4 linked regions of the Homo sapiens genome follow. The protein of the gene in region 3 interacts with the protein of the main gene of each other region in a biochemical or structural test. Each region holds a gene or a part of one and is shown on either strand. Other genes may lie near its edges. The genes, in order: RAMP3, PLK2, NSF and ASPSCR1.

Region 1 (7,579 bases), on a different chromosome or scaffold from region 3:
GAATCAAAATAGAAATCCATTTTGGTTGGTTTCATTGGGAAACAAAGAACATGCCGGCCTGTGTTTCTTTTGTCTCAGGGACTTCCAGACGCCACTGAGAGATGATAAACAGCCAAACAGATGCATTTCCGCCAGAAAGGGCTTTTGTGGCTAGTCATTTGGAAATGAAACACAGGCGCTCTCCCCCTCCTTGACAGAAAGAGCATCGACGAGACTGGCAAGTGGCTGCCATGGGCCACGGTCAGTCGACCTTGGGAGGCTGTGGATTCTGGGCGGTTCTGCCCCTGGTCTCTGTGGTTGGGCAACTTCCTCTCTAACCTCCAGATTTCTGTTTCCTTATGAAGAATAGGTAAGAGCATGGAGGTCAGATAACCTCCAAGGAACCTCCAGTGCCAAAAATCTATGGGCCTCTTCTTGGCCAATCACCACCTTCAAGTCTTTTTTTTTTTTTTTTTTTTTTTTTTTTTTTTTTTTTTTTTGAGGCAGAGTCTCGCTTTGTCACCAGGCTGGAGTGCAATAGCATGATCTCGGCTCACTGCAATCTCCGCCTTCCAGGTTCAAGCGATTCCTCTGCCTCAGCCTCCTGAGTAGCTGAGACTACAGGTATGCACCACCACACCCGGCTAATATTTTGTATTTTTAGTAGAGACGGAGTTTCACCATGTTGGCCAGGATGGTCTCGATCTCCTGACCTCGAGATCTGCCCGCCTTGGCCTCCCAAAGTGCTGGGATTACAGGCGTGAGCCACCGCACCCGGCCGGCCACCTCCAAGTCTTTAATTCACCAGAGTTACTGCTATCCAACCATGGCCCTTGGGCCCACTTGATTCAGTAGAATCAATATGACCACAGGTAACATGGCAGCAGGACATCATTTAATGATAAAAACGATGGTACCATGTTCATACGCTTGCACACACAGGCACACACACTATGGTGCTCCATCTTTGGGTGCTGTGAGTGAGCCTCATGAGGCCCAGTGCAGTCACTGGTGGGTGCCTTCCCATACCTCCCCTTGTTTAAGCATGAACCCTTCCACCCCACAATCCCATGCCCAACACAAGGTGATAGGGACTAAACTGAATGGAATCAAACTGACGGTCTCAGCAGCCCTTTACAGATTGCTATTATTACATCTACATTGCAGCTCGGAAACTGAGGCCAGTGAGTGCTTTATAATCTTGGGATCATGATCAGGATTTTCACCCAGACCAGAAGAGTCCAGTCAAGAGCTGGGCACCACAGCAAAGTGTCCTGCTGAGTAGACAACTGCTGGACTTCGCATCCCCACAGCCCCACACAGCATCAAATGCTTTCTGGAAAAAGGTCTGGAATTCTCAAAGAAGCCCCAGAGGCCTGCACCCTCCCTGCTGGTCCTCCTGAGCTAGTCCTCAGTCAAGAGGAACCCACCCAGCTCCTTCCTTCCAGACACAGCAGCATCCAGGGCAGATGTGGGTTCCAGTCCCGGATACCTCTGACACATCGGCCTGGGACCATGAGCAAGTTTTACCTCTCCCTGAATCTCACTCTGGCCAGTCGAACACTGGGAGGGTCTGCTGAGAAGCTGGACCTGGTCCCTATTCTGGCCAGGGAGCGTGAACCCATGTCCCATTGGAGGGGGACAGTCAGGACCAACACAACAGGACAAAGAAGTGGCCCTCAGGAACTGGGTCCACGAGAGACAGGATTATTAAGGGGGGATTCTGTGCAGGCGGAAGCCTGTGGTCCTTCTCAATTTGATACTGGAGATGATCAGGAAAGCCTCAGCTTCTCCCAGAATGAATTGAGAGGACCTTCCTTCCACTATAGCGACCAAGATCTCCACCTAAGGGGCGCTCACTGGAAGTTTGCTGAAATCCCAAATCAGCATGCTCCTGATTTCAGAAGCTGCCATCCACCTTTGCACTTCAACACAAAATCCACCACATCCTAGGCTCCAGCCCTGGAACACCAAATGAAGCCACACAAGTTCTGCACACCAAGACCTCTTCAATGGAAGGAAAATGACCACTGAGTTTGGTCCACCCTTTTCCCACCTCCCGTACCAAATCCCAAATCATCAAAACAGGCCCAACTCTGCATCTTACAGCCAGGGAAACTGGGGACCACCAGGCCAGGGCCCTCCATCACCAATGTCCCCCCCAGAACTGGCCAGGCTCAGTCACCACTCAGTGGACCCCAGCCCTCAGCAAGCACTCTTCCCCAACAGCCTTTACACACATTCTCTCTCTCTCTCTCTCTCTTACTTTTTCTTGGATAATTTCTTTAGCAAGGTACTTCAAAACAAGCTTTTAGTTTAATCTATTTCCATTTTGTGAGCAATGGTTCTTCCTAGAGTCCTGATTTCTTGCCGAAGAAGGCATTAGGAGAGGATGGCTCAGAGAGTCGCCCCGCTTCCCCTCTCAGCCAGTTCCAGGACACACACAGGCGTCCACACACTGAGGGGCCCTGGGAGGACCAGCTACCCAGTCCGGAGTCCACCCGCCCACGCCCCTGTGAGTGGTGGGCAGGCACTCAATGCCAGGACAGAGAGCTCACTACCTTACAGACAGCCCACCCTGGGGGATAAGGGGTAAAGAGCCAGACCTGGTCCACCTCTTCTCGCCCACCCTGAGGCGACCCCAGAACCGGGGCGTGGGGGGACATCACAACTAGAAGGACCGGGGGCTGCCGGACCCTGCCGTCAGAAGACCCCGGAGGGGGCCCTGTGCCTCCCTTGCCCGCCAGAGTCCTTCGCCTTCAGCTTCTCCCGGGTGGAACCCTCCCGCAGAGCCTGGGAATCCCGCCAGGGTCACTGTGCGCCCCTCCCGAGCTCCGGGGCAAGGGAAGGACCGCGGCGCAGGTGCGGGAAGGCGCGGGTCCACCCGGGTCCGGTGAACCCCGAGGAGTGGGGGCGCCCCCGGTGCGGGCCGTCGCCCCCTTACCGCAGAGCAGCAGCAGCAACGGGAGAAGTTGCGGGCGCCGCAGCGCTCCAGTCTCCATGGCTGGCCGGCCGCAGCTGGGTCACGCTCGGTCCCGCTGGGGGCGCGGCTGGGGGACGCCCGGTTGGGGTTGGGGTGGGGCGGGGCCTCAGGGGGTCCGCCCTCAGGCCGCACCCCCAGACCACGCCTGCGGCCGTGCCCCGTTGCCTCCAGATGTGGGGTGCAGTCCCTGCAGGCGCGCCGGGTGGGAGGGATGGGGGCGGCTGGAGTCTCAGCGGGGTGAGAGGGGGGCGAGGGCAGGGTTTCGAGCTGGGGACAAGCTGGGGTAAGGTGGGGTGCCGGCTGATGGGCTCTGAGGGCGGGGCTGGGGTGCTGAGCTGCAAAGGAGCTTTTTGGGAGCAGATTGTAGGGGCAGACTGGGAGGTGAGCTGGGGTGAGCGTGGGGGCCGGCTGACGGTGGGCTGGGATGCAGGCTGGAGAGACTTGGGGAACTTCCGTCCAGGCTCAGGGGCAGAGGGTGGGGGTAGACCGGGGAGGGAGCTGAGGTGAGGATGAAGCGCTGGCTGATGATGGCCTAGAGGAGTCTGGGGGTAGACTGGAGGAAGGTGGACCTGGGAGTGGGCTAGGTGTGCCCTGGCCGAAAGTAGACCAGAGTCCAGAGCTGCCCCCAGGCAGGGAGGGGAACTTTGAGCAGAGATACATCTAGGAGCCAGGTCTCCAAAGGTCAGGAAAGTGCATAAAAGAGGTTGGGGGGTGTGTGTGTGTGCGTCTGTGTGTGTGCGTGTGTGTGTTGTTCATGGAGTACGTGTGTGTGATGTGCATGTGGGGTGTGTGTAGATGCATGTGTGTGCATGGAGTGTGTGATGTATGGTGTGTGTGTGGCATGTGTGTGTTTGAGTCTGAGACAAGGTGTGTTTGTGAGTGTATGCTTGGGAAACAGTGTGTATGAGAGAGACTGGAGGGTGTGGCAACTACACACACAGAGACGTATCACACACCAAGAACCAAGCCACAAGCAAACCAAGGGACAGGAGAGTATCTGGCACCACCAAAGACCTGGCCTTGAAGAGTGTCAGGGTCCCTGAGGCGAAGGAGGGCCTCAGTTTCTCCAGCCACAGGTCACTTGGCCAGATGGGTCACCTCTGTCACCCTCAGCCCCTAGCACAGGCCCTGGCTCCAGTGGACACTTAATGGTGTCTTAAGAATTGTCACTGGTCAGGACTTCCGAGAGCCAGCTAGAGGCACCTCTCTGCCCTCCAGGGCCCACCCACCACCCCTGGGGGCACATGCTGGTCTGAGGTTGGGGCACAGGCCCAGGCTCCTACATGGATGGGCCCTCCACTCCTCTGAGCCGTAGGTACTGCTACCTTCCCAGGAGCTGAGCTGAACTTCTCCTGGCTTAGAAAGACCCACTTTATTTAACAAGACCCTTATTCGGGAGAAGAACTTTCTGTGCTTTTTTACTGAAGAAATTCTGATTACAGCCAGAATTAATTCAAAGGAGTCAAAACTAATTAAAATTGATCATTTGTCCTGCCTTCTGCCTGAGGGGTGGGCAGCAGGTGTAGGGGTGGCCACAGAGCCTCTAGTGAGACTGATGGTGCCCACAGCCAGGCCTTCTGCCCACAGGCCAGGGGTCATAAAACAAGCTGACCAGGGCAGCAGGGGGCTGGCTTACACACACGCACACCCTACACCAGCCAAGACAAACCAAGAGGATGGTCCAGGCCCAGGTGTCCACCCACATCCCACACAGACTCGGCCCTACAGCTCTCTCCAGGAGAGTCTTAGTCTCCACTCGGTCCCACAGCCCCAAAGGCGGTTGCACATAGCTTGCAGGCTGGAACAGTAGGATGGGGTTGTCAGGTGGGAGGGGGGCAGCCAGTTCCCCCAAGCCTGCACCAGGGAGCAATGCTCCCTTTCCTGGACTCCCCACCCTGGCTCTGCAGTGGGGAAGCCCTGGCCATTCTACAGAGTTGGGTTCCAACACCTCTCCTCCATGGAACCAACCATGCCCCAACAAACTCCCAGGGAGTTGTGTCTACTGCCCCTAGGTCCCTCTAAGGCAGGGCCCTCACTTCTCCTCTCTGTGCCCAGTGGTGCCCATGGCCTCTGCAGGGCAGGTGGGTTTAACACAGGCTGTGAGGAGCTGAGCCATGGGAGAGAGGGACCTGCCCCTTCCACGGTGCATCCCCCCGACCCTGAGTGTGGAAAGGCTGCCGCCATAAATGAGATTGACCATGGGGTGTGCCCTGGACAGCACCTGTCTCCCTGCTTGTCCCTCGGTGGGTGCTGGCCCCGGCACCATTCCCTGTGTCTGCGATCCTGTGTGCACTGGGGTCCTCTCAGGAATCCCCTCTTAGCGTTCATAATTATTTATTTATTTTATTTATTTATTTATTTATTTATTTATATTTTTTTTAGAAGGAGTTTCATTGTTATTGCCCAGGCTGGAGTGCAATGGCATGATCTTGGCTCACTGCAACCTCTGCCTCCGGGGCTCAAGAAATTATCTTGCCTCAGCCTCCCGAGTAGCTGGGATTACAGGCTTGTGCTACCATGCCCGGCTAATTTTTGTATTTTTAGTAGAGACGGGGTTTCTCCATGTTGGTCAGGCTGGTCGCGAACTCCCGACCTCAGGTGATCCTCCTGCCTCGACCTCCCACAGTGCTGGGATTACAGGCGTGAGCCACCGCGCCCGGCCGGTTCATAATTCTTTACACCAAACTTCCCCATTCAGGTTGCGGTGTAGTCTCTCTCCTGATCAAGCCCTGATTCACCATTATCATGATATTTATTCTGTGATTCCTCTTATTCTTAAATAGTTGTAAGAGAACATTTTCTTGACACTCAAGTGGCCTCTTCTAAGAGGAAGAAATAACATCCTGGTGTTTCTACCAGATCAGGGGAACACATGGCCGCTGGGCCTTCACTCTCCCTGGAAGTAATGCTTCTGCCCGGAGTCCACGTGTCCAGGCAAGGGCCTGAGCACAGAACCTGGTGAGGTTTGGGATCTGGTTCTGCTTGCTCTGGGGCTAGACTTCAGGAGGGTGGGGGTTGAGAAGGAGCCAAGGGAAGCCATTCCCGGGCACCTGGCTCCCCCTGCTGGACAGACACTGAAATAACGGTATCATTGTCGATGAGACTACGCCTCTGTCCCTGAGGCAGCAGCAACGCCTCGGTGACCCCTCTCCAGGGACACAGAGGACCGGTCTTCAAAGAAGGGTGATGAAGGAGATTCCAGGAAGGGGTGCCTCTGACCCTCAGCTGTTTTCCACCTTCCCACGGATCAAGACACAGCCTTCCATCTCCTGTTGCGTTTGTTTGCTCATTTGTTTAATTGCAATAAAAAATACTTAACGTCAAATCAAGCATTTTAGGATGGGTGTGGTGACTTATGCCTGTAATCCCAGCACTTTGAGATGCCGAGGTGGGCTAACTGCTTGAGCTTAGGAGTTCTAGACCAGCCTGGGCAACATGGTGAAACCCCGCCTCTACAAAAAAAATACAAAAATTAGCCGTGTGTGGTGAGGTGCGCCTGTAGTCTCAGATACTGTGGAGGCTGAGATGAATTTCCTTTTTTTTTTTTTTGAGACATAGTTTTGCTCTTGTCACTCAGGAGTGCAATGGTGCCATCCCGGCTCACTGCAACCTCCACCTCCTGGATTCAAGCGATTCTCCTGCCTCAGCCTCACAAGTAGCTGGGATTACAGGCCCTCCCACCACGCCCAGCTAAATTTTGTATTTTTGGTAGAGATGGGGTTTCACCATGTTTGCCAGGCTGGTCTCGAACTCCTGACCTCAGGTGATGCGCCCACCTCAGCCTCCCGAAGTGCTGGGATTATAGGTGTGAAGCACTGCGCCCGGCCTCCTTCCTTCTTAAGGCTGAATAATATTCTGTTGTGTGGATAGACCACATTTCATTTACCCATTCATCTGCCATTCATTTCCTTTTTTAAGTCAATGAAGCAAGTTTACTTTCATTTTATTTTATTTTTGAAAAACCTATCAGAAAATGTCTTGAGGAAAATACATTAAAATGTTATCTGTGGTCATTTCTGGCTCTGGAAAGATTTAAAGTGGTGTTTAATTTACATTACCTTCTGCTGGTCTCTGCTTTCTCATTTTCCTACAGTGCATTTTGTGGCATGTGGTGGGTTTTATATAATGCATGTGTTGTGAGAGTTTATGTGTGTGCACTGATGAGTATATGTACCTGTGTGGGTGTGTTGTGCAGCTCACGAATGTGTGGCATGTGTGTATGGGATGTGTGTGTACCTGCTGTGAGGTGATGGTGTGTGTGTGTGGTGTATGAATGGGTGTTCATGTGTGTTGTGTGTGGAGCATATATGAATCTATGTGTCTCATGATTGTGACTGTGGTGTGGGGCATAAGTGTATGCACACGTGAGGAATGTGTGAGTGTGTTCAGGCAGAACATTGTTGGCCCCTGCTGGACAAAATACGCACAGTCATTTCCTGGAGCACAACCTCCCCTCTCCCACCACATCATCTGACCCTAAGCATGCTGACCCCATCCCCCTCTGCCCTGCTCCCACCAGGCGACATAAGCAAAGACTCAGAGCTGGTGCCAGGGCAAGTTTGGGGCCCTGAGCATACCTCTTGGCTTCTTTGAACCTTGGTGAGCTCAAAGTTAACT
Region 2 (7,573 bases), on a different chromosome or scaffold from region 3:
GTCCGGAGTGAAGCCCTGTGGAATATTAGAAAAAGCCTTCAGTAACCTGTCAGGTAACTGGGATCAATACCAGGTAATTAAAAAAAAAAGATAGTGCACCAACCTGCAAAAAAAAGTCATGTCGAATGATGTCATCCAAACTGGGACGATCCTCTGGGTTTTTGGACAACATACTAGCAATTAAGTGCTTGGCAGGAGCCAGCAATGAGGACGGCATTGTATACCTTGCTTCCCTTATGCACCTATAAGTTTCTTTGAGATTTGTAGTTTCAAATGGGGGCCTCCCTAGTAACATTGTATACCTGTGTGCAAAGAAACACATCTTTAGCAATGGTCATAAAGCAACTCTTTTCAAGTGTTAAAATCTAAATCCGAATTTGCTTTTTAATTATTCTGCTGCATTTACTTACATTACACAGCCCAGGGCCCAAATGTCTGATTCACAGCCATGTCCTTGTTTGTTGAGGACTTCAGGAGAGAGATAATTTGGGGTACCACATATCGTTCTGGAAAGACAAAATATTGAGATCGTGTTAGGAACTATTCCACTACTTAAACTTGGTTCTCTTGACATGACTTGATGGGAGACAAAATCTTAAACAAAATCTTAAAATCTATACTGAATTTCTATTTGGAAACATTTGACTTTTGGCATCTGAAAATTCAATTGAGATCTGACCAAATGAGTTTTGGTAATTTTTAAAAATGCACACACGTTGTTTTAGCCCACATGCAAAGTGTTGTTAACCAACTAAAGCCAGGGACGTCGTGGCATTTTATACATTTTAAGCCAAGAAAAGACTTCATTGACTGCTTTCATAATCAATTTAGAGGCACAGGGTGCTCTGTCTAGTCCATAGTGGGCATTTAATAAGTATTTCTTTAAATTAACATTGCTATGATTTATAGATTTTATTACCGGACCTCTGAAACATTAAATGCAAAATAATGAAGGCATATTTGGTCTCCACAAAAGTCTACTAGGATGCATCTTTCTGACTCTTACCTCCTTCTGTGTTCCAAGGGTTCTAGCCTGGCTGCCAGACCGAAGTCCCCAACTTTTAGTTCCATGGCTTCATTAATAAAAAAGTTCCCTAGACGATAAACAAAACAAAATGTGAATCCCTTTGAAAATGCGTTCTAACCAAGTACACACACATCCACTTTGGAGCCAGGCAGCCAATTGTTATATGAAAGTCGCCCATTCAAAAGCAAGATTGCAGACACGAGATCCCAATTAAGAACATTAATATGTAAAAAAAAACAGAGAGAGAAAAAAGAACTCTAACACAAAACTCAGCTTTTGGCGTCAATGACTTACCTAGTTTGAGATCTCTGTGCAAGATTTCTTGTTCATGAAGGTATTTCAGTCCAGACACAATCTGCCTGAGGTAGTATCGAACTTCTGGCTCTGTCAACACCTTTCTTGCTTTCAAAATATGAGCCATTGACTAAGAAGAGGAGAAGGAAAAAAGAGAATCTGTCAAAACAGTTATCAAAATCACTGGTTTCCCTTTGCAGGATGAGCAATGAAAGTTAACTTTGCAGTGTAAGTGCTGCCACAGCTAAAATCCCAGATAAAATACTCTTTGAATACCATGTTAATTCGGGGTAAGCAAATGTTCTCAAATAGGAGTTGACACTTACCCTTCTACTGCAGTATTCCAAGAGAATGTAAATGTTTTCTTTGTCCTCGAAGTAGTGGTAAAACTGCACTACATGCTTATGATGAAGAATTCTGTGAAGCTCTATTTCTTTGTCAATCTAAATGAAAAAGCAAGGTAAGGCTTATTAGCTTCCAGTCACCTCGGAAAAGCCAGTGATTACACATGCAGAAGACATTTTCCTAACAGGGAAGGGCCATCCTTGCACACAAAGAAAATACTTTACTCAAGAGTCATACGCACCTTTTCCCTTTGATGAGGTTTAGCTACTCTGCTGTGAGGAATAATTTTTGCGGCGTAGACTTTGTTATTTGTCAAATCTGTCATCTCGTAACATTTTGCAAAGCCACCCTGAAAGGAAACAAAGCCGAGACGGAATTGAGGATGGCACAAAAATGGACGGCAGATATTTTAAATAAATAAATAAATGGGAAGAAAGAAAAGCAAAAAAAAAAAAATTGAGGAATGGAGGAGGGTGGACAGAGGGAGGCATTCGACTTCGTTAAAGCTCCCTCATGAAGAGAAATGCATTGCTGGAAACAGCAAGTTCAAACAGTTTCTCTTCTTCTTTTATAAAGGGGAGCTTTATGGAGGGAGTTGGAACGGGGAGACATGAAAAATAATCTCTGATGAGACTTGTCAGGAAAATTCCCTGGGAGCAGATAGAGGGAGAGAGGTCTGATGTAGAAAGCCCTCGCTTCCAGACTCAAGATGCATTTCTCTGGGCTGCGGGAGACACACAGTTCTGAGGCTAAGAATGCAAAGCCGATCCCCAGCGCTGCCGGCGCACAAAAGCCAGAGGGCAGGTGAGGAGCCCACCTCGCGCTGGGATCGGACCCCCGAAAAACCCGGAAGCGGCGGGCGAGGGACCCCGCGGGCTTGCCCGGCTTGGGGTCGCCCGGACAGACCTCCCGCCCGCCCGGCAGCCCGGCGCCCTCCGCTTGTCACCTTTCCCAGCACTTTGCCCCGGCAGTAGCGCTTCCCAGTCGTGGGGTCGACGATAATCCGCGAGATCTCCGGCCCCGAGTGCGAATGGTGGTGATGGTGGTGAGGGGCCGCCGGGGGCACTTGCGCCTGGGACTGAGGTGGCTGCGATTCCTCGGGGGGCTGCGGCGGCCGCTTCTTCTTCGAGTCCGCTCCGCAACCCTTGCCCAGCGCCTGCTCGCACATTTTGGTGCTGGCGGCTGGCTGGTAGGTGATAGTCCGCAAAAGCTCCATGGTCGCCTTGCCGCCCCGCACTGCCCGCTGCCACCCCCTAGGCGCGGTCACACGTCCGAGCCGGCCGTGGTCCTCGCACCCTTGCCTCTGGTGCCGACTAGCACCCAACACCCCGGTCCACTTGTGCGAGTGAGAGCGCTCGGCGAAGTCTTATATACGGGGAGGCGGGAAGGGGGCGGAGACTCGATACGCGACATCACGTCACGGCCTATGCCCCGCCCCACGGCCGGCCGAGCGCGCGTGGCCGGGAAGCAAGTCTTGTCCCGCCACCCGGGTCTCGCTTCCCAGCGGAGCCGCGCGCCTCAAACGCCGGCCGCCGAGATCTCTTGCGGCCGCGGGAAGGCCTTCAGAGCCGTCCGTGGGCCCCGCTGTCCCGTTCTTCGAAGGCTCCGAGCCTCAGCGTACAAAACAGAATCGCGAGGGCCGACGCCTGGCCTCACCCCCGCCCCAGCCGCCTGGTGGCAGGGCAGTGCCGTGACCCGAGCGAGTCGGGCGCGGGTGTAGACGCAGTCCCTCCCCCGCACAGCCCTTCCCGGCCGCCCGGGGCCTCCTGTGTCAAGGTATCAGGGTGCCCGGAGCCCGCCGCACGGGCAGGCGAGGCCTCCTCCGGCCGTATGACAGGGCTCGTCTGCAGCTGCCCCGCAGTGCCTGCCCGCGCTGTGACGAGCTCGCTGGTGTCTAGCTGGGGCAGTGCCGAGAGGCCGTGGGGGTGAAAGGCCGGGATTCGTGGAGCCGGGCATTCGAGCCCATCGCGCTAGGGCAGACACGGGCCCGCAGCCGGGATCCCGGGCCGATCGGCCAACCGTGCCAGGATCCCACTCGAGGCCCGTCTGGCCCCCGCCCATGCCCCTAGAGCGAGCCTCTGTCTGAGGTCGGCCCCTGAACCTTGCAGAGCGAGGTCGGCGTCCTGGCAAGGCGTCCTCCGCCCGTAGCCCGAAGATTGGAAAGCAAGGGCGCCATCTTGTGGAATGTTCCGGAATGCCGTTAGGTGTCGAAGTGGGCAGCGGTTGACAACCGTGGGCCTTTGACAGTTACTAGTACTAAACATCGATGCCGATTGTGAGTTTCCAATCAGAGTCATCTATGACTTCTTCCGAATGCATCTGTTGAGATGGCTCATGAGCTGCCCTGGTTCCTGGAGAGTCAATCTGAGACTTTCTGGGGTAGGGAGATTGGTAGGATGAAGAGAGGAGCGTAGGCCAGTGAGTGCAAACACAGCTTAGTTTCCCATTTCCAGATTTTGCTGTGCAGTTTGACTAATCTAGGAACACGTTTTTTTGTTTGTTTTTCTTGTTCTAATTACGATAGAGTAACATTTATTGAGGACTGTGCAGTATTTTTAAATGCCTTATTTCATCCTACAACAATTCTGAGAGAAATATTGTAAGGAAGGAAAAATAATTTTCCACCTTTCAAAGTTTTGGCCTGGGTCGCTGTAACCAGACAGATTAACAAGAAAACAAAGAAGCTTATTAACATATACGTCTCATATATACATGGGAGATAACCAGGAAAATTAGAGATGGTTTAAAATCGGGCTTAAATACTATCTTTAGCTAAACCAAAAGAAAAGAGTGGGGCAGGCAAGTTAAGGAATCATGACCAGGAAATGTACGGTAAACAGGAGTGGGGTTTCTTATTTCTTCATTGATAAGTTTTTCATGATTTAGAGTCATTCTTCCTGGTACAGAGGAGACACTTTTACAAATGGAGTTTTGTGGGGTTTTTTTGTTTTTTGTTTTTGTTGTTTTTTTTTTTAGTGAATGTACGTTTCCCTTACGAAAGGGTAATATGCCATTTTTAGAGCATTTCCTGGGTCTGCTGGTTCTCAAAATAATTATCTTAAAATAATCTTTATCCCAGGGCCATATTTGGGGTGGCATATTCTCATCTCCTACATTATTATTCCCATTTTATAGATGAGGCTTGGAGAACTTAGGTAATTATTGTATATTTTTACTAGATCATCGAGGTTAGGTTAATTAGCAGCACACTTGAATCTTTTTACCTATGTTAACAGGATATGGTAAATAGTTTTTTGAAGCTAAATTCCAGAGAAATTTAGAATACCAGATTATTGAATCCCTGGAAGGTACATACAAAAAGTTGCTGCAGTCCACTGTCAAATTTAGGTATGTGTGGTATCAACATTAATCGAACATTTACAAAAATACTGTGTCTCAAATACTTCCAGCATAATGTGGAAAAGAGGCTTATTGCCATTAGAGAGGAGAAAGGGAAAGGCTTTGCCATTAGCGAGGAGAAAGGGAAAGTCTTTGCTGTCACTTCCGTTTTTGATTCTTTAAAGAGTGCAGGGCAAGTCCAGGCATGTTTCTCATAAGTGACAATAGACTTTAACCCCAAGATTGTCAGGGATGGAATAAGGGGTGGGGCTTAGGGGTGGAAATTCAGAATTACGTAATTATCCTCTTTATTCATAAGCCCAGGGGTGACCTTTGCTTCCCAGATTTGTGCAAACCTACTCTCTAAGATGTAGAAGGCTTGCAGGTTTAGAAAATATTACTAGAATTTATCAAAGCTAGTTTACACACCATGTCTTTATGGTTGATAATAAACTGTATATGTATACATATGTGTGTATGTGTATGTGTATTCATTTGTGGCCTAAGATAAAAAACTGAAGAATAGATTGTCATGATTTTTTTTTAAATGTCAATTTCTTCTTTGATTAGCATACACTATGGTATGTATCTTTACCAAATGGACTTCAGTATTTGATAAACTGTTGAACATTCCATGTGAAATTCAGGTCTGTCTGCCACAACATGGAGGCATTTAATAAAATATTAACGCTGTGTAAATCTTATGTTGTCTTCTTTCCGACTGAGAACATGATTTTTTTGGGGTTGTGGTGCCATCATGTGGACAGAACCAAAATTGTAGTCTATAGAACAAAAAAGGAAATAAATGCGCTTTCTATTAAGTAGACTAATTACTAAATATCATGGAGTCAATTTGGTAACCAGTAGGAAGGAAAAAATGGATCCATGCTTCATATCTGGCTTATTTTCAAGCAAATGAAAGTTTGAAATACGTGAAATTTTAAGACAATATGAAAGAATTCTTTCATAGCCTGAATGTGGTAGAACTTTCAACTATTTACAAAATCTAGAATCCCTAAAAAAAAAAAAAAAGCAAGATTCATTAATGTAACTATATAGAAACAAAACCCTTTCATTGATTTAAAATAACAAAACACCACAAATAAAGTCAAAGGATAAATAACACTGGAAAAATTATTTTCAACTCATCACAGAGAAAGAGCTTATCTTCCTGTTATATAAAAACTCCTACAATTGGATAAAATACCAATTATCCAACAGAAAACAAATGGTTCTTACATTTGCTCAATTTCACTCTTCAGAAGAGAAATTGAAATGAAAGATATACTGAGGCACCCTTTCCTACAAAATTGGCAAAACCCTCAAAAGTTGCCGTGAACATGCTCAACTGCTGAAGTGTTGAGGAAGCAGCACTCCATATATTGCTGTTGGGAATGGAAATTGATATAATTTCAGTGAAAAGTAATTTGGCCAAATCTATCAAATTTAGAAATGAATGTATTCTCTTACTTAGGAATTTATCCTATGGATATAATCTCATATATAAAATGATGCATGACACATCAACAAATGATAAAAACCCTGGCCAAATTAAGCCCAATTCTTACATTTGTCAATAAGTTTTTATTTAAAAGAACCGTGCCCATTTGCCGGGATCTAATTAAACTAAAGAGCTTCTGCACAGCAAAAGAAACTATCGTCAGAGTGAACAGGCAGCCTACAGAATGGGAGAAAATTTTTGCAATCTATCCATCTTACAAAGGGCTAATATCCATCATCTACAAAGAACTTAAACAAATTTACAAGAAAAAAAACAACCCCATCAGAAAGTGGGCAAATGATATGAACAGACACTTCTCAAAAGAAAACATTTATGCTATCAACAAACATGAAGAAAAGCTCATCATCACTGGTCATTAGAGAAATGCAAATCAAAACCACAGTGAGATACATCTCACGCCAGTTAAAATGGCGATCATTGAGAAGTCAGGAAACAACGAATGCTGGAGAGGATGTGGAGAAATAGGAACGCTTTTACATTGTTGGTGGGAGTGTAAATTAGTTCAATTGTGGAAGACAGTGTGGCCATTCCTCAAGGATCTAGAACCAGAAATACCATTTGACCCAGCAATTCCATTACTGAGTGTATACCCAAAGGATTATAAATCATTCTACTATAATGACACATGCACATGTATGTTTATTGCAGCACTGTTCACAGTAGCAAAGACTTGGAGCTGACCCAAATGCCCATGAATGATAGATTGGATAAAGAAAATGTGGCACATATACACCATGGAATACTGTGCAGCCATAAAAAAGGATAAGTTGATGTTCTTTGCAGGGACATGGATGAAGCTGGAAACCATCATTCTCAGCAAACTAACACAGGAACAGAAAACCAAACACTGCATGTTCTCATTCATAAGTGGGCATTAAACAATGAGAACATATGGACACAAGGAGGGGAACATCACACACTGGGGCCTATCAGGAGGTGGGGGCCTAGAGGAGGGATAGCATTAGGAGAAATACCTAATGTAGATGACGGGTTGATGGATTCAGCAAACCACCAAGGCACGTGTATACCTATGTAACAAACCTGCA
Region 3 (6,958 bases):
AGCAGAACCACAAAGAGTCCTGAAGGCCTCATTAAGGATTTGGTTTTCTCCCAAAAGTAATGGGATGCTGCTGAGGAGGGGTTTAAGTAGTAATAGGCACGGGAAGGAACAATGAAGGTCAAGAATGAATTGGAGGTGGGCCACATGCTCTAAGAAGACTACTTGGGAGGCCGGGCACGAATCTCAGCACTTTGGGAGGCCAAGGCAGGTGGATGACCTGAGGTCAGGAGTTCGAGACCAGCCTGGCCAACATGGTAAAACCCCGTCTCTACTAGAAATACAAAAATTAGCCGGGTGTGGTGGTGGGCGCCTGTAATCCCAGTTACTCAGGAGGCTGAGGCAGGAAAATGGCTTGAACCCAGGAGGCGGAAGTTGCAGTGAGCAGGGATCACGCCATTGCACTCTAGCCTGGGTAACAAGAGCGAAACTCCATCTCAAACAAACGAACAAAAAAATACTTGGAAGCTTCCTGCAGTAGTCCAGACCAGAAATGATGGTAGTTTGGGAAAAGGAGGTAAAAATGAAGATGTGGAAAGGTGGACAGACTGGAGATTTTTAGGTTAAAATGACAGAACCCATGTGACCAATCCAGATAGTCCAGTGGGTGACTTGGAACTAGTCTAAAGCAACCATTCCCCCAAACCAGAGTCTTTGGCCCTAATTAAATACCTTTATGGGGGGCAGGAGCAGAACTCTGACAAATTTTACCGGGGGATAGGGCAGAGGACATGGGTACAGCAAAAGAGAGACATAAAGGGTTACCCACCCTCTCCCTCCCTCAGATTCCCAGCCTATATAACTGGGTGGATGATGGTATCATTCAGTGAGATATTCCTATCTCACTGGATAGGTACAGATGGTCCCTGACTTACAATGGTTTGACTTAACATTTTTCAACTTTACAATAGTGCAAAGGTGATAGGCATTCAGCAGAAACTGTACTTTGAAGACCTACACAACCATTCTGTTTTTCACTATCAGCACAGTAATAAATGACATGAGGTATTCAACATTTTATAATATAGGTTTATGTTAGATGATTTTGCCCAACTGTAGGCTAATGTAAGTGTTCTGTGCATGTGTAAGGAAGGCAGGCTAGGCTAAGCTATGATATTCGGTAGATCGGGTGTATTAAATGCATTTTCAACTTCTGATACTTTCAGCTTACAATGGGTTTATCGGAAGGTAGCCCCATCGTTAAGTCGAGGAGTATCTACACAAGTTAGGTGGGCTAAGATCCTGGGTTCGGAGTTGAAAAAGCTGCGTTTCGGGACCTTGATTTTAAATAAGCAGTTGGACATATTAACCTGAAACTTAAAGGGCAGGTCTGGACTGGGGGTAAAATATTGAGAATCACTGGCATATAGACAGTTGTAGCTATGGGCTTAGAAGAAATTGCCTGAGCGGGAAATTGAGAGTGAGAAGACGGCCTTTGAGGAATACCAGCAATGAATAACAAAGTAGAGGAGGGTGAGGCCGCAAAAGAGAGGTCTGAGTCAAACCAGGAGCGAGGCATTCCAGAACACATGTGAAGAGTGCTTTCCGTCAAGGAAGCCATGGTCAACAACGTCAAACGCTGCTGAGATATCAAATAAGATAAGGATTGAAAGGTATCAATTAAGTTGAGGGACAGGTTTCAGTGGGATGATGGGGCAGAAATCAGACTGCAGTAGGTTGAAGGGTGAGTAGGTGGTAAGCAAATGGAAGACAATAAATATAGACAACTCTATCAAATTTCCTGCTGTAAACTGGGACGGGAAAAGGTGACAGCTGTGGGGGTGGGGGAAGGGTTTAAGATAGAGAAGCTTGATTATGTTAAGAAGGAGCAGGTGAATATACAGATAGGGTCTGAAGTACTGGCAGAAGGACTAGCCTTAAAAGGAGAGGCCATGGGGAAAAGGAAGAGAAAGAAGCCAAACTAAATGACCTTTAAGATCCCTTCTTACTCTAGAATCTCATGACCTACAAGTCCCTTCAGATAGGGCATTTGCATATATGCATAAATCTATGCAAACTTATTCAAAAATTCTGTTATAAATAGATCAGTCAATCACATCTTTCACCCCCAATGACGCAGTTAATGTCCTCAGGTTTATGACCAGTGTAATCTCCGGGCAGGACTCATCCCTTGAGAGCTTTTAGCTCAAGGCAGACTGCAATACAGCACTCAACCAGCTCTCTCTCCTCGCCAAACCCATCCTACCCAACGATCCTAAAGGCTAAAGGAGGAAGTAAATTTAAAACCCTGAAACTACAGCATATCCTGCTGCATTCGAAGCGAGTGTCATCCATAAAAACAAAACGTGACACCCCAAATCCATCCTCACTCCAAGCTAAAGCCAATTCCTGCCTGACCCGACAGTTGACAGGTCCCCCAGATGGCCGGGCTTTAACACTAAAAGTCATTGGCACCCCCTCCTCTTTCCCAACGACCTTTAATTTGTGAAGAGCCAGACATGGGTTCCTGAAGATCCTTCCTACACCCCTTGCCCCGAATGCAGCAGAGGTGCTCCCGGCAGTTACTCCGGCGCCCCCTAATAAGCCCTCGCAAGGGGGTGCGGAAAGACCCCCAGAGCCCGTCAGAGGGGGCTTCGGCGACCGCGACCCTGCGGCTGTGTGGAGGACGAGGGAACAAGCCCCAAGGGATGGGAAGGGAGGATGACGGGAGGCGCAGCAGACGCGTGTAACGAGGGGTCATCTCCCCTCGAGGGGGGTGGAGTTGTTGAGGAGGGCTAATCCCCTGCCACCGCTCCCCTGCTACCCTCAAGTCCCGCTCTGGCCTCGCGCCCCATTGCTCGGATTCACTCCCACTCCTCTGGGGCCGCCTGGACCCCAGAGTGCCCGCGAGCCCGGCGCCCCTGCCTCAAGCCTGGGCTCCCAGACCGGCACTCACCCGGCCCGCCATCTTCGCGGACACGTCCGGCTCGGCGGCTGCAGCTCTGCGCTCGGCAAAGCCCGCCCCCGCCGCGCGCGCGCCCCCGCCGCCCGCCCTCGCGCAGGCGTGCAACCGCCGTGAGGACGCGCGCGTCCCTGGCCGCGTCCCCGGCGTCCTCGCTCCACAGGGCGCGCGCGCGGGCTCGGCGGCCGCCTGGGGTGCGCGGGGTGGGCAGAGCGGCGGCGCCATTTTGGCTGGAGCTGCGGGGCTGTGGTGGGTGACTCCGTTTCCAACGTGCGTGTCAGTCCGCCGGGGCCTGGAGGGCTGCGCCTGCGAGTCTCATCCCCCACTGGCGGTTCGCGCCGGAATTTGTCTCAAGGGCTTTAATGCTTCGGATCACTTATCCCTTTGCCAGCTGCTGTTCGCCCTCGAATGTCCATTTTGGTCTGTGCTTCCACACTCTCTTTAAACATGGTCTTGCTGATGAGAGCGCCCGGCGCGTTCCCTGGCTTCCCCCAAAAAAGATCAGCTCCGAGGAGTTGGTTCTGAGTTCAAATTCTCCATGAATTTTCTCACTTTTCTTTGTAGGCGTACTTGTTTTCCTAGTTGCTGGAATTGTCATCGTTGGCAGTTTTATTTATGTGTAGCCTGGAAAACTCAGTATTTTCAGATTTGAAAGTGAATTGTGATTATTTTTATACATTATTTTTATTAAATATTTGTCTTTATTTAATAAAGGCAACTTGCATCTTCGACCAACCTTTTCATTCCCCAGTGTTGTTTCATTTTAGACAATATATATGGTAGAATCTGAATAAAATATGCCCTAAATTGAGCCTTGTTGAACCTCAATGTTTCCACCATACCATTTCTCCACTGGAATCTCAGAATATCTAACTGCAAGCACGCTGAGAGGAGAAAGATTCTGCCGAATGGATTCCCTGATGCTTTTATTTACCCCACTATCATATCTCTCTTCATATTTGCACAAGACAATAGGGAATGATAGGATTTGTTCGCTTTCATTTCTCACAATTAGAATAAATCGGGGTTTTTTTCCCAACATGAGGAAAGAAGGGAAATAACTAGAAGAGCTGAGCATGCATAGTGATTTAAATTTGAGAACTAATAAAATCAGACAGTGACCTGAAGATGAACTAGGGACAGAAGAAAAAATTCATGCCAGCCAGGCGCGGTGGCTCATGCCTGTAATCCAAGCACTTTGGGTGGATCACCTAAGGTCAGGAGTTCCAGACCGGCCTGGCCAATATAGTGAAACCCCGTCTCTACTAAAAATACAAAAATTAGCCGGGCGTGGTGGCGGGCGCCTGTGATCTCAGCTACTCAGGAGGCTGAGGTGGGAGAATCGCTTGAACCCCGGAGGCAGAGGTTGAAGTGAGTTGAGATTGCGAGGCTGGGCAACAGAGCGAGACTCCGTCTAAAAAAAAAAAAAAAAAAAAAAAAATTCACGCCTATTTCATTAAGTCTCACACTGAACCTGAGGACCAGGGTGCTTGGTTGACCAAATCAGATGTTAGCTAAATCATGGGTGGGTCGGAGAGGTTATCAGGAAAGATAGGAAACTAGTTGAGTTCTGACATACTAACGTGCAGAAGCTACTAACTTACAAAAACAAATATTAGAATGGCTTGGGGAGTCCAAAGGGTTAGGTTCTTTTCTTTGTCCCTATCTACCCATCACCTGTGTACCTTCATCTCTCTGAGCCCAGTTTCCTTATTTGTTTTTGTTTGTTTGTTTTTGAGACGCAGTCTTACTCTGTCACCCAGGCTGGAGCACAGTGGCATGATCTCGGCTCACTGCAACCTCCGCCTCCCGGGTTCTAGCTATTCTCCTGTCTCAGCCTCCCAAGTCGCTGGTATTACAGGCGCCTGCCACCACACCCAGCTAATTTTTGTATTTTTAGTAGAGACAGGGTTTTGCCATGTTGTCCAGGCTGGTCTCGAACTCTTGACCTCAGGTGATCCACTGGCCTTGTCCTCCCAAAGTGCTGGGATTACAGAAGTGAGCCACCACGCCTGGCCTAGTTTCCTTATTTGTACAGTGAGAGGTATAATTAAATAAGCTTAACAGTTGTATCCTTTTTTTTTTTTTTGACACCTTGACTTTGAACCTAGAATCAAAGAGATTTTGTCCAAATAATTACCAGATCCAGAAGATGACATTGGTTCTCAGTCCAATAATCTGACATTATTTTCAAGGTTGGAAAATAATGCAAACATGTTTCTCCCTATCACTGGTTAGTTTGTCTTGTTTTACTAGATAAGCTAGATTGCAAGTACAAATGTCTTCAATTTCTCCAACAAGGAAGAATATTTATCATCTTGGAAGGATATGCCTGCTGGAAAGTTTCCAGTGTATCAGCTAATGTGCATATCTACCCATTATAAGAGGCCCTCTGTGCCCTCTCAAAGCCCTCTGTGCCTTCTCACAAGTAGTAAAAATTAAATAGAATCATTTGCACAGCCCTGCAGGGCCTGCCAAATAAATTGCAAGCAAAGATAGCTCTTGTCCTTAAGGTCCTTAGCATCCAGCAGGAGAGGAAGGATCCTGAGACAGTGCTCCAGATACTCCACATGTCTCTGCAACCTGTTTGTGCCTTGCTCTGACATTCAAGGTCATCTTAGAAATAGAGGGGTGCTGATTCTGCATCACCCTCTGAGTAATCCTTGCAGTGATAGTCGATAAGCAATAAATGTTTTTGCTGCCCCAAATTCACTCTGCCCTTTTCTGGTAACAGCTCCTCTGGTTCATGCAGCCTTGGAAGGACTGTCAGACCAGGTACCCTGCCTCCCCCTGGCCCAGGAGTGAATACAGAACCCAAGTTCAATCAGTCAGATGCTCTGTCTCTCCTAAGTAACTGCAATCTTGAATACCCTGAAGAATAAAGACAGAAATAGCTAGAGCTCATTTACTGCAATGATGACACCCTGAAGAGACCATTTGCTAGTTCTCTAGATCTCTAGAGTTTACCTGCTTTCTGTCATCTGAAAAATCTGATTGTCCCCCTTTGTCTTGATTTCTGTTAGTCACTTTCTCTTCCTAGAAAAATACCTCCCTCAGCTCTTCGTCGATCCCTGAAATTCTTTTAATATGCTTTCCTTTCACAGTGAGAAAGTTAGTAAGACGGCTAACAGAATGATTAATTTAAATCCTAAAGTGTAATGACTAACATCATTTTTTAAGGAAGGAAGGGCTTTGAGTGGGGGGTAGGAGGTGAGTCTAGGGATAGGGTCAGAGAGGAAAGGTACCTGAAAGGTGGGGAAAGAAGATGAAGACATGATAAAATGGAAATAGCAGGACCCAGAATGAAGAAGAGTGGGGCATAAGGGCAGGGGCAGGGTTTGACCAAGGTCAGTTCTTGCTGAACACAGCCCTTGTGATCCAGTGTGACGGTTAATTCTGTGTCAACTTGGCTTGGCCATGTTGCCCAGATACTTGATCAAATATTATTCTGGATGTTTCTGTGAGGGTGTTTTTGGATGAGATTTACATTTAAATCTGTAGACTTTGAGTAAAGAAGGTTGCCCTCCATAATGTAGGTGGGCCTCATCCAATCACTTGAAAGCCTGAATAGACAAAAGGCCAAACTCATCCAGAACAAGAAGGAATTCTCTAGCAGGTTACCTGTGGACTAGAACTGTAACTCTTCCCTGGGCCTCCTGCATGCCAGCTTCTCCCATCAGATTTTGGGCTCCCAAAGTCTCCACGATCACACGAGTCAATTCCTTAAACAAAATTTCCTCCTATGTATATACACATTCTGTTAGTTCTATTTTTCTGGAGAACCCTGATGAATATAGTCAGTTTCCTGTCAGTTACAGGGATGTGATTCCTGGTTTTTACAAAGTGATCCTTAGCATCACCTGTTGCTCCCTGATAGGTAACCAACATCTATAGGTGGAGGCCTGATTCAAAGACTTGAAAACAGTGCACAGATAGAATTTTATGTTCAAATTATGTCCCATTAAACATCACTTAAAATGTGCTCCATTGGAATGGGGCTGACTAACATTTTGGTTATATAGACATTTGTTTGTAATGGTTGTGGTAACAGAATTTAAC
Region 4 (7,479 bases), about 35 Mb from region 3:
TACACTTCCCAGCCTGTTAGAATGGCCACCCTGCAAGCTGCAACCGGTTATGAGAAATAAAGCCCTCCTTTCCAAACATATGAACCGCATTCTTCAGTTGACAAGAGAGACTGGAGAAGGATGGTGTGAAGGTCTGGGGCAGAAAGCCCAAGACCACCTGGCATTCAGAGCACAGGTCCTGGGATTCTCACGTGGTCCAGACACAAGGTAGAAGACTGGAATGACTTGGCAGGTATCACCCCTAAGAAACTCCTCCCAGGAGAGCCTCGTAAGGCAGGGTGGGCAATGCCAGGAGGGCAAGCTCCTGCCCTCTGCCCCCAGTGTTAGGACAACAGTACTGTAAAAACAGGTCTTCAAGGGCAGGCATGGTGACTCATCTCTGTAATCCCAGTACTTTGGGAGGCCAAGGCAGGCGGATCACAAGGTCAGGAGTTCTAGACCGTCCTGGCCAATGTGGTGAAACCCCATCTCTACTAAAAATATAAAAATTAGCTGGGTGTGTTGGTGAGCACCTCTAATCTCAGCTACTCGGGAGGCTGAGGCAGGAGAATCACTTGAACCTAGGAGGTGGAGGTTGCAGTGAGCCAAGACCGTGCCACTGCACTCCAGCCTGGGCGACAAGAGTGAAACCCTGTCTCAAAAACAAAACAAAACAAAAAAAACACCAGAAAACAGGACTTTAAAGTGAAAAGCTTCGCGTGTGGGATAGACACGCACATCCTATCCATATGAGGGCTCTGACCCTTCTGCTGTCTCAGACTCCTTGAGAGTCTGGCAGAAGCCCTCTCTTGGGAACAATATCCCCACACAGAAGCGTACGTGTAATTCCAGGGGCTGTGAGACTGCAGGGATCCACCTGCAGTTTTCAAGGCATCCTATTTCTCCACGGCCAGCTCTTTCCCCTCAGAGCCCCACTGGGAACTTATGCAACTCAATGCAATAAAACCTACAGGGGGTTGAATGGTGGCCCCCCCAAAAAAGATGGGTCAATGTCCTCACCCCCAGGACCTCTGAACATCTTACTAGGGATCCTGGTCTTTGAAGATGTAATGATAAATCGTTCTAGATTATCCAAGTGGACCCTAAATCCAATGACAAGGGTCTTCCTGAGACACAGAGAAAACAGGAAAAGGCCACAAGAAATCGGAGGCAGAGAGCAATGCGGCCACAAGCCACAGAACGCTTGGAGCCATGAGAAGCTGGAAGAGGCAGGAGGGATTCTCCCTTAGGGCATTTGGAGAGAGTGTGGCCCTGCCAAGGCCTTGGGTCTCCAGAGTTGGGAGGGAATATATGACTGTTTAAAACCACCTGGGGGCTTTTCCAAGTGAGAGCCAGTATGTTCAGGGGGCAGGGGCACAGATATACTCAGACCCTGCTGCTGAGCTGGAGCAAACTCACTTCAGATCATATTCACAGGGGTTGAAGTCCTGCCGCCGGCACGTGTCCTCCAGAACCTGGGGGTGAGATGAAAGGATGGTGAACTGCTGAGTGTGCAGGGCTGGCGGGCGCAGTGGGCCAGGTCAGCCAAGGGCATTCAGCTTCCTGGTGAGCCAGGTGGCTCTGCCCAGGCAAAGCCAAGCACAAGACCACACTATGGACGGTCCCCGCAACAAATGCAGGCTCTCACCTGCAAATCCTGTCCACTCTCCCTCCCTTCTTCACCATCCCCTCAGTTTTGTAGGAAAGCTCCACTCAGAGTTCCCCTGCAGTACAGCAACACGGGCATCTTCCTGGCACACACCCTGGGCTCTCCTTCAAACCCTGTAGTTCTGCAACCTGCCTTAAACTTGCCTAGCACAAGCTACCCCCTGGCTCTGGCACGGTTCTGTGCACCTGCTGCCACTGCCTGCACCGCCTCCGCCCCTCTTCTCCATAAAAAGCCAAAGCCGTGGCCTTGCACCAAGGGGTCCCGCGCAGCCTCTGCGGGAGCGCCCCACTTCCGCACTCTGCACGCCTGGCACCAACAGCCTCCTGGCTGCGCCCTCCACCTGCCCAGGCCTGGGGACCCCACGCCGTGGGCTGCTCCCGCAAACTCCGAGTCGTGTGCACCTTCGGATCCTCACGGTCCCCCACGCAGCAGAGGCTCAATAAATACTTTTTTTTTTTTTTTTTGATATGGAGTCTCGCTCTGTCTCCCAGGCTGGAGTGCAGTAGCGCGATCTCGGCTCACTGCAAGCTCTGCCTCCCAGGTTCACGCCATTCTCCTGCCTCAGCCTCCCGAGTAGCTGGGACTACAGGCGCCCGCCACCACGCCCGGCTAAATTTTTTTGTATTTTTTTAGTACAGACGGGGTTTCACCGTTTTAGCCAGGATGGTCTTGATCTCTTGACCTCGTGATCCACCCGCCTCGGCATCCCACAGTGCTGGGATTTACAGGCGTGAGCCACCGCGCCCAGCCAATACTTTTACATTTAATTGATTCGCGGTCACAAGGTGCCCAAGTAAAAGTGCAGTGAGTGACTCGGCAAAAATCGCTTCCAGGCCCCACGGCCGGGACATCTGCCACCGCGCAACCCGGGCTCCCGCTCCGGGGGACGCCCCGGAATGGGAACGCGGGTCTAGGGCTCCACTCCTCCCTCTTCCCGGCGCCCTCGCGAGCTGGGCTCGGCCGGGCGCCGAGTACTCGATGCGGGTGACACGCGGCGCCGTTCTACCTCACCCCTGGGAAGGCTCGCCACCGCCCCGCCCCCACTCGGGACCCCCGGGACCCCCGGGACCCCAGCGGAAGCGCAGGTGACGGCGAGCAGGGGGCGGGGCCGCCGCTCAGGAGGCCGCTCATTGGCCGCCGAGGCCCCGCCCCCGAACACCGGGACGCCGACCGCAATGGGCGGGGCCTCGGCGCAGCGCCCCCCGCCCGCCTACCCGTCCGCCCCGGGCGGGCGGCCGCACCTGAAGCAGCACGGTGCTCGGCGTCACCTTCACCGTGTGGCGCCGGCCGTTCGGGGCCAGCACCGACACCGCGGAGCCTCCGCCGCCTGCCGGGGCCGCCATTTTCCGCTCACGTGACCCGCCGCCGGGCCGGCGTCAAACAACTTTATCGGCAACAGCCAGGACGCGCAGCCACGCGGCCAGGGGGCGGGGCCGCAGCGCACTTCCGGGTCCTGCCAGGCCCCGCCCTTTCCCCACCCACGGCGCCCCGGCCCCGCCCTTGGGCCGCCAAAGCCCGCGCCAGACCCGGAAAGCGCGGTCGTCCTCTGCCTCCGGGAAGCGCGGCTTGGATGGGCTCGCCGGGGCCAGGCTGGGCCGGGGCTGGGCGCGCGGTCACCCCCGGTGAGCGGCACTGAGCCCCGGGGTCCCAGCGGTCCGCGCTCGCCCACCCTCGCTTCGTCCCTGACACGTCCCCAGCTCGGTGCCCTGCTCTCCCCCGACCCTCCCGGCTTCCTCCACTCCAGCAGCTGAGCCTCTTCCCTGCCCACCTGTCCCTGTGGTCAGCGTCCACCTCCTGACCTTATGGTTTGGGGCAGTCCCCCCGCCCCTGTACGGATCCTCCCTGGGTGTTGGGACTCGTGGCCCTCAGTCTAGACCTGATTTCTTTCATCCTAAAATGGGAGTGCAGAATCTGGCAGCCCTAGGGCTGCCGCGACGGTCCCTAAACCTGAGGGTAGGAAAGGCGGGAGACCGGTTTCAGAACCGTGGGGTGAGCGAACTTGAGTCTCACCGGAGCTCCTGCCGACCCACAGGCACTCAAGGACTTCCCGCACCAACCCATGCTGAGGAGGGGCTTGGTGGCAGCCTCAGGAAACACTCCCATCGCCAGCCACCGCAGCAGGGAAAGCACCTGGCCTCACCAGCTCCAGGCTTCCAGAAGGAGCTGCCCTCCTGACTCGCAGCCGTCGAATGTGCTTAGCTCCCAGCACCTGGGCCACTCATGGACAGCACTCGCACGTGTTCCGCCCCGCCCCCCACCTCCATGGCTCAGCCGGGCCTTGGCACTCCTCTCTCCATGTGCCTGCCTGTCTCTGCGGACTCCTGGCTAGGGCTCAGCTGCCCAGTAGCCTGTGGAAGGGGGAACTGGTGCAGTTATCAGTCAATCCTCCCACAGGGCTGGGATTACACACGTGAGCCACCGCACCCGGCAGTCATTGCTGAGTCTAAGGACATCTCTGCATGGGTGCTGTTGTGCCTTCCTGTCGATGACATATCCATGTCACCCACACACACCTGTATGCTGACAAACACGGACATCTATGTACATTGGAGAAACCTGGGGAAAGCCCCAGGCTAGCCATAGCCCTCCCATCCAGCCAGCCAGTCCCATGCTCTGTGCAACCTCAGAACCTTACTGAGCCACACATCACCTGGTGGGTTTTAATTCTTTAGTGGCGTTTTTGAAGAGTCTGTTCCTATTTTCCTTAGACTGTCCCACAGTCTGGATCCTTGGTTAAACGTTTGGGGCAATGATGAAGGGAGGTGACAAGTCAGCAGGAGGTGCAGGACATCAGCGTGGCCATGAGTGAGGACGTGAAGTTGAACCACTTGGTCAGCTTTGGGTCTGCTGAATTCCTCCATGGTCAAGGTCCGTGGCTCCTTGTGGAGTAATTAAGGCATGCGTGAGGTCATTCTCTGAGACCACAAGCATCAAGTTTTCCCAATAACCATTTGCCCAACAGTTTTAGCATCAGTTAATGAGTAGATTCAGTGTTAAACCGTAAAGCTGCAAAATCATGGCTTCCCAAGTTTATTGTTTCTTCTACATTTATAGTCACTTTCGGTCAAGCTTCCCCTTCTTTAAAAAGTTATTAAATATTTGGGAGGCTGAGGCAGGAGAATGGCGTGAATCCGGGAGGCAGAGCTCGCAGTGAGCTGAGATCACGCCACTGTACTCCAGCCTGGGAGACGGAGCAAGACTCTGTCTCAAAAAAAAAAAAAAAAAAAAAATTAAATATGGCCAGGCGCGGTGGCTCACGCCTGTAATCCCAGCACTTTGGGAGGCTGAGTTGGGCAGATCACAAGGTCAAGAGATTGAGACCATCTTGGCCAACATGGTGAAATCCTGTCTCTACTTAAAAAAAAAGTACAAAAATTAGCCGGGCATGGCGGTGCGTGCCTGTAATCCCAGCTATTCGGGACACTGAGGTAGGAGAATCACTTGAACCTGGGAGATGGAGGTTGCAACGAGCCAAGATCGCACCATTGCACTCCAGCCTGGGCGACAAGAGTGAAACCCCATCTTGAAATATATATATTTATTAATATGAATTCATGTATTTTTTTCATTCAGTCAGCATTCTTTTTGATGCTCAAATTGGTCCGAATTTGGCCAGTGAGACCTCCTTTAAGCTGGCTCCTATGCTTTTTTTGATAGGAGGGATGATCTTTTATCCTGATATTATTTCAAACTTAGCCGAGCAAGGTGGCTCACACCTGTAGTCTTAGCTACTCCGGTGGCCGAGGCAGGAGAATTACTTAAGTTCCAGCCTTAGTGAACCACTATTCATGCCTATGAATAACTACTGCACCCCAGCCCGAGCAACGTAGTACGATACCGTCTCAAAAAAGGAGAAGGAGAAGAAAGAAGAAGAGGGAGGAGGAAGGAAGAAAGAGAAGAAAAGTTTGCAAAAGCAAGAATTCCTGCTGTATATCTTTTTTTTTTTTTTTTTTTTTTGGAGATGGAGTCTCCCTCTGTCGCCAGGCTGGAGTGCAGTGGCGAAATCTCAGCTCACTGCAACCTCTGCCTCCCGGGTTCAAGCGATTCTTCTGCCTCAGCCTCCCGAGTAGCTGGGACTACAGGTGTGCAGCACCACACCCAGCTAGTTGTTGTTTTGTTTTGTTTTGTTTTTTGAGACGGAGTCTCGCTCTGTTGCCCAGGCTGGAGTGCAGTGGTGCAATCTCGGCTCACTGCAAGCTCCGCCTCCCGGGTTCACATCATTCTCCTGCCTCAGCCTCCCGAGTAGCTGGGACTACAGGCACCTGCCACCATGCCCGGCTAATTTTTTGTATTTTTAGTAGACATGGGGTTTCACCATGTTAGCCAGGATGGTCTCAATCTCCTGACCTCGTGATCCACCCGCCTCAGCCTCCCAAAGTGCTGGGATTACAGGTGTGAGCCACCACGCCCAGCCTCCTGTATATCTTTTAGCCAGATAAATCAGTGTTTACATGTCACCCCATTTGTTTTATCATATTCTCTTTCTCTCTCTCCATATACATGTAAAAACTTTTTCTGGCCAGGCACAGTGGCTTACACCTATAATCCCAGCACTTTGGGAGGCCAAAGTAGGAGGATCATTTGAGCCTAGGAGTTTGAGACCACCCTAGGCAACATAGTGAGACCCCAGCTCTACAAAAAATACAAAGGTTAGCTAGGCATGGTGGCATGTCCCTGTAGTCCCAGCGATTTGAGAGATTGAGGCAGGAGGATCACTTGAGCCCAGGAGGTCGAGGCTGCAGTAAAGACATTGAGCACCTTCGCCACTAAATACTTCAGTTTTTCTCTTTCCTAAGAATAAGGCCAGTCTCAACCAGGTGCAGTGGCTCACGCCTGTAATCCCAGCATTTTGGGAGACCAAGGCGGGTGGATCACCTGAGGTCAGGAGTTCAAAACCAGCCTGGCCAACATGGTGAAACCCTATCTCTACAAAAAATACAAAAAGTAGCTGGGCGTGATGGCAGGTGCCTGTAATTCCAGCTACTTGGGAGGCTGAGGTGGGAGAATTGCTTGATTGTGGGAGGTGGAGGTTACAGTGAGCCAAGATCACGCCATTGCACTCCAGCCTTGGCGACAGAGTGAGACTCAGTCTCAAAAAAATAAATAAATAAAATAAGGCCAGTCTCTTATATAGCCACCATAATTTCATACAAAATTGGGAAATCTAATGTTGGTATCATACTCTGAGTTAATCCACAGTTAATTGTCCAAGTGTGGACATCTTTCCTGCATCCTTTTGGCATTTCCATTATTCTTTGGGCATCTCCTCTCTGCCCAAGCCCTGAAGTCAGCCATTTTTCAGAGAAACCCCAATCCCTTTTACAAGGAAATGGGATTTAGAGACCAAGTTCTGGGTGCTGAGTGTGCTCATGGCTACTGGGATGTCACTGCTTTCTGGGCCCTCTCAGGGGACACAATTAGTGTGATGAATTCATCTGAATATTTCTAAGCCACACCTCAGCCTTCTCCCCCTTCTTCCCTCATTCCATATTTGTATTTGGTTGAATTCTATTAAATTGCCCTAGTTAACCTTTTTTTATCTTCTTTTTTTTTTTTTTTGAGACGGAGTCTCACTCTGTCACCCAGGCTGGAGTGCAGTGGCGCAATCTTGGCTCACTGCAAGCTCCACCTCCCAGGTTCACGCCATTCTCCTGCCTCGGCCTCCCGAGTAGCTGGGACTACAGGCACCGGCCACCACACCCGGCTAATTTTTTGTATTTTTAGTAGAGACAGGGTTTCACCATGTTAGCCAGAATGGTCTCAATCTCCTGACCTTGTGATCCGCCTGCCTCGGCCTCCCAAAGTGCTGGGATTACAGGTGTGAGCCACCG

Evidence for each region.
Region 1: the proteins of NSF (region 3) and RAMP3 interact in far-western blotting, tested with the Homo sapiens proteins (one study listed by BioGRID).
Region 2: the proteins of NSF (region 3) and PLK2 form a complex in vitro, tested with the Homo sapiens proteins (one study listed by BioGRID).
Region 4: the proteins of NSF (region 3) and ASPSCR1 form a complex in vitro, tested with the Homo sapiens proteins (one study listed by BioGRID).

What each region holds. Positions count from the first base shown.
Region 1 is NC_000007.14:45,153,231-45,160,809, reverse strand, and holds the start of RAMP3 (receptor activity-modifying protein 3 precursor), read right to left. Parts: upstream 3,020-7,579; 5' UTR 2,982-3,019; coding exon 2,924-2,981; intron 1-2,923. UniProt on the Homo sapiens protein: Accessory protein that interacts with and modulates the function of G-protein coupled receptors including calcitonin gene-related peptide type 1 receptor (CALCRL), calcitonin receptor (CALCR) and G-protein coupled estrogen receptor 1 (GPER1).
Region 2 is NC_000005.10:58,457,078-58,464,650, forward strand, and holds the start of PLK2 (serine/threonine-protein kinase PLK2), read right to left. Parts: upstream 3,010-7,573; 5' UTR 2,883-3,009; coding exon 2,613-2,882; intron 2,016-2,612; coding exon 1,908-2,015; intron 1,765-1,907; coding exon 1,648-1,764; intron 1,452-1,647; coding exon 1,322-1,451; intron 1,095-1,321; coding exon 1,007-1,094; intron 507-1,006; coding exon 411-506; intron 303-410; coding exon 104-302; intron 16-103; coding exon 1-15.
Region 3 is NC_000017.11:46,586,723-46,593,680, reverse strand, and holds the start of NSF (vesicle-fusing ATPase), read right to left. Parts: upstream 3,013-6,958; 5' UTR 2,906-3,012; coding exon 2,894-2,905; intron 1-2,893.
Region 4 is NC_000017.11:81,973,159-81,980,637, reverse strand, and holds the start of ASPSCR1 (tether containing UBX domain for GLUT4), read right to left. Parts: upstream 3,010-7,479; 5' UTR 2,992-3,009; coding exon 2,890-2,991; intron 1,455-2,889; coding exon 1,399-1,454; intron 1-1,398. UniProt on the Homo sapiens protein: Tethering protein that sequesters GLUT4-containing vesicles in the cytoplasm in the absence of insulin. Modulates the amount of GLUT4 that is available at the cell surface. Enhances VCP methylation catalyzed by VCPKMT.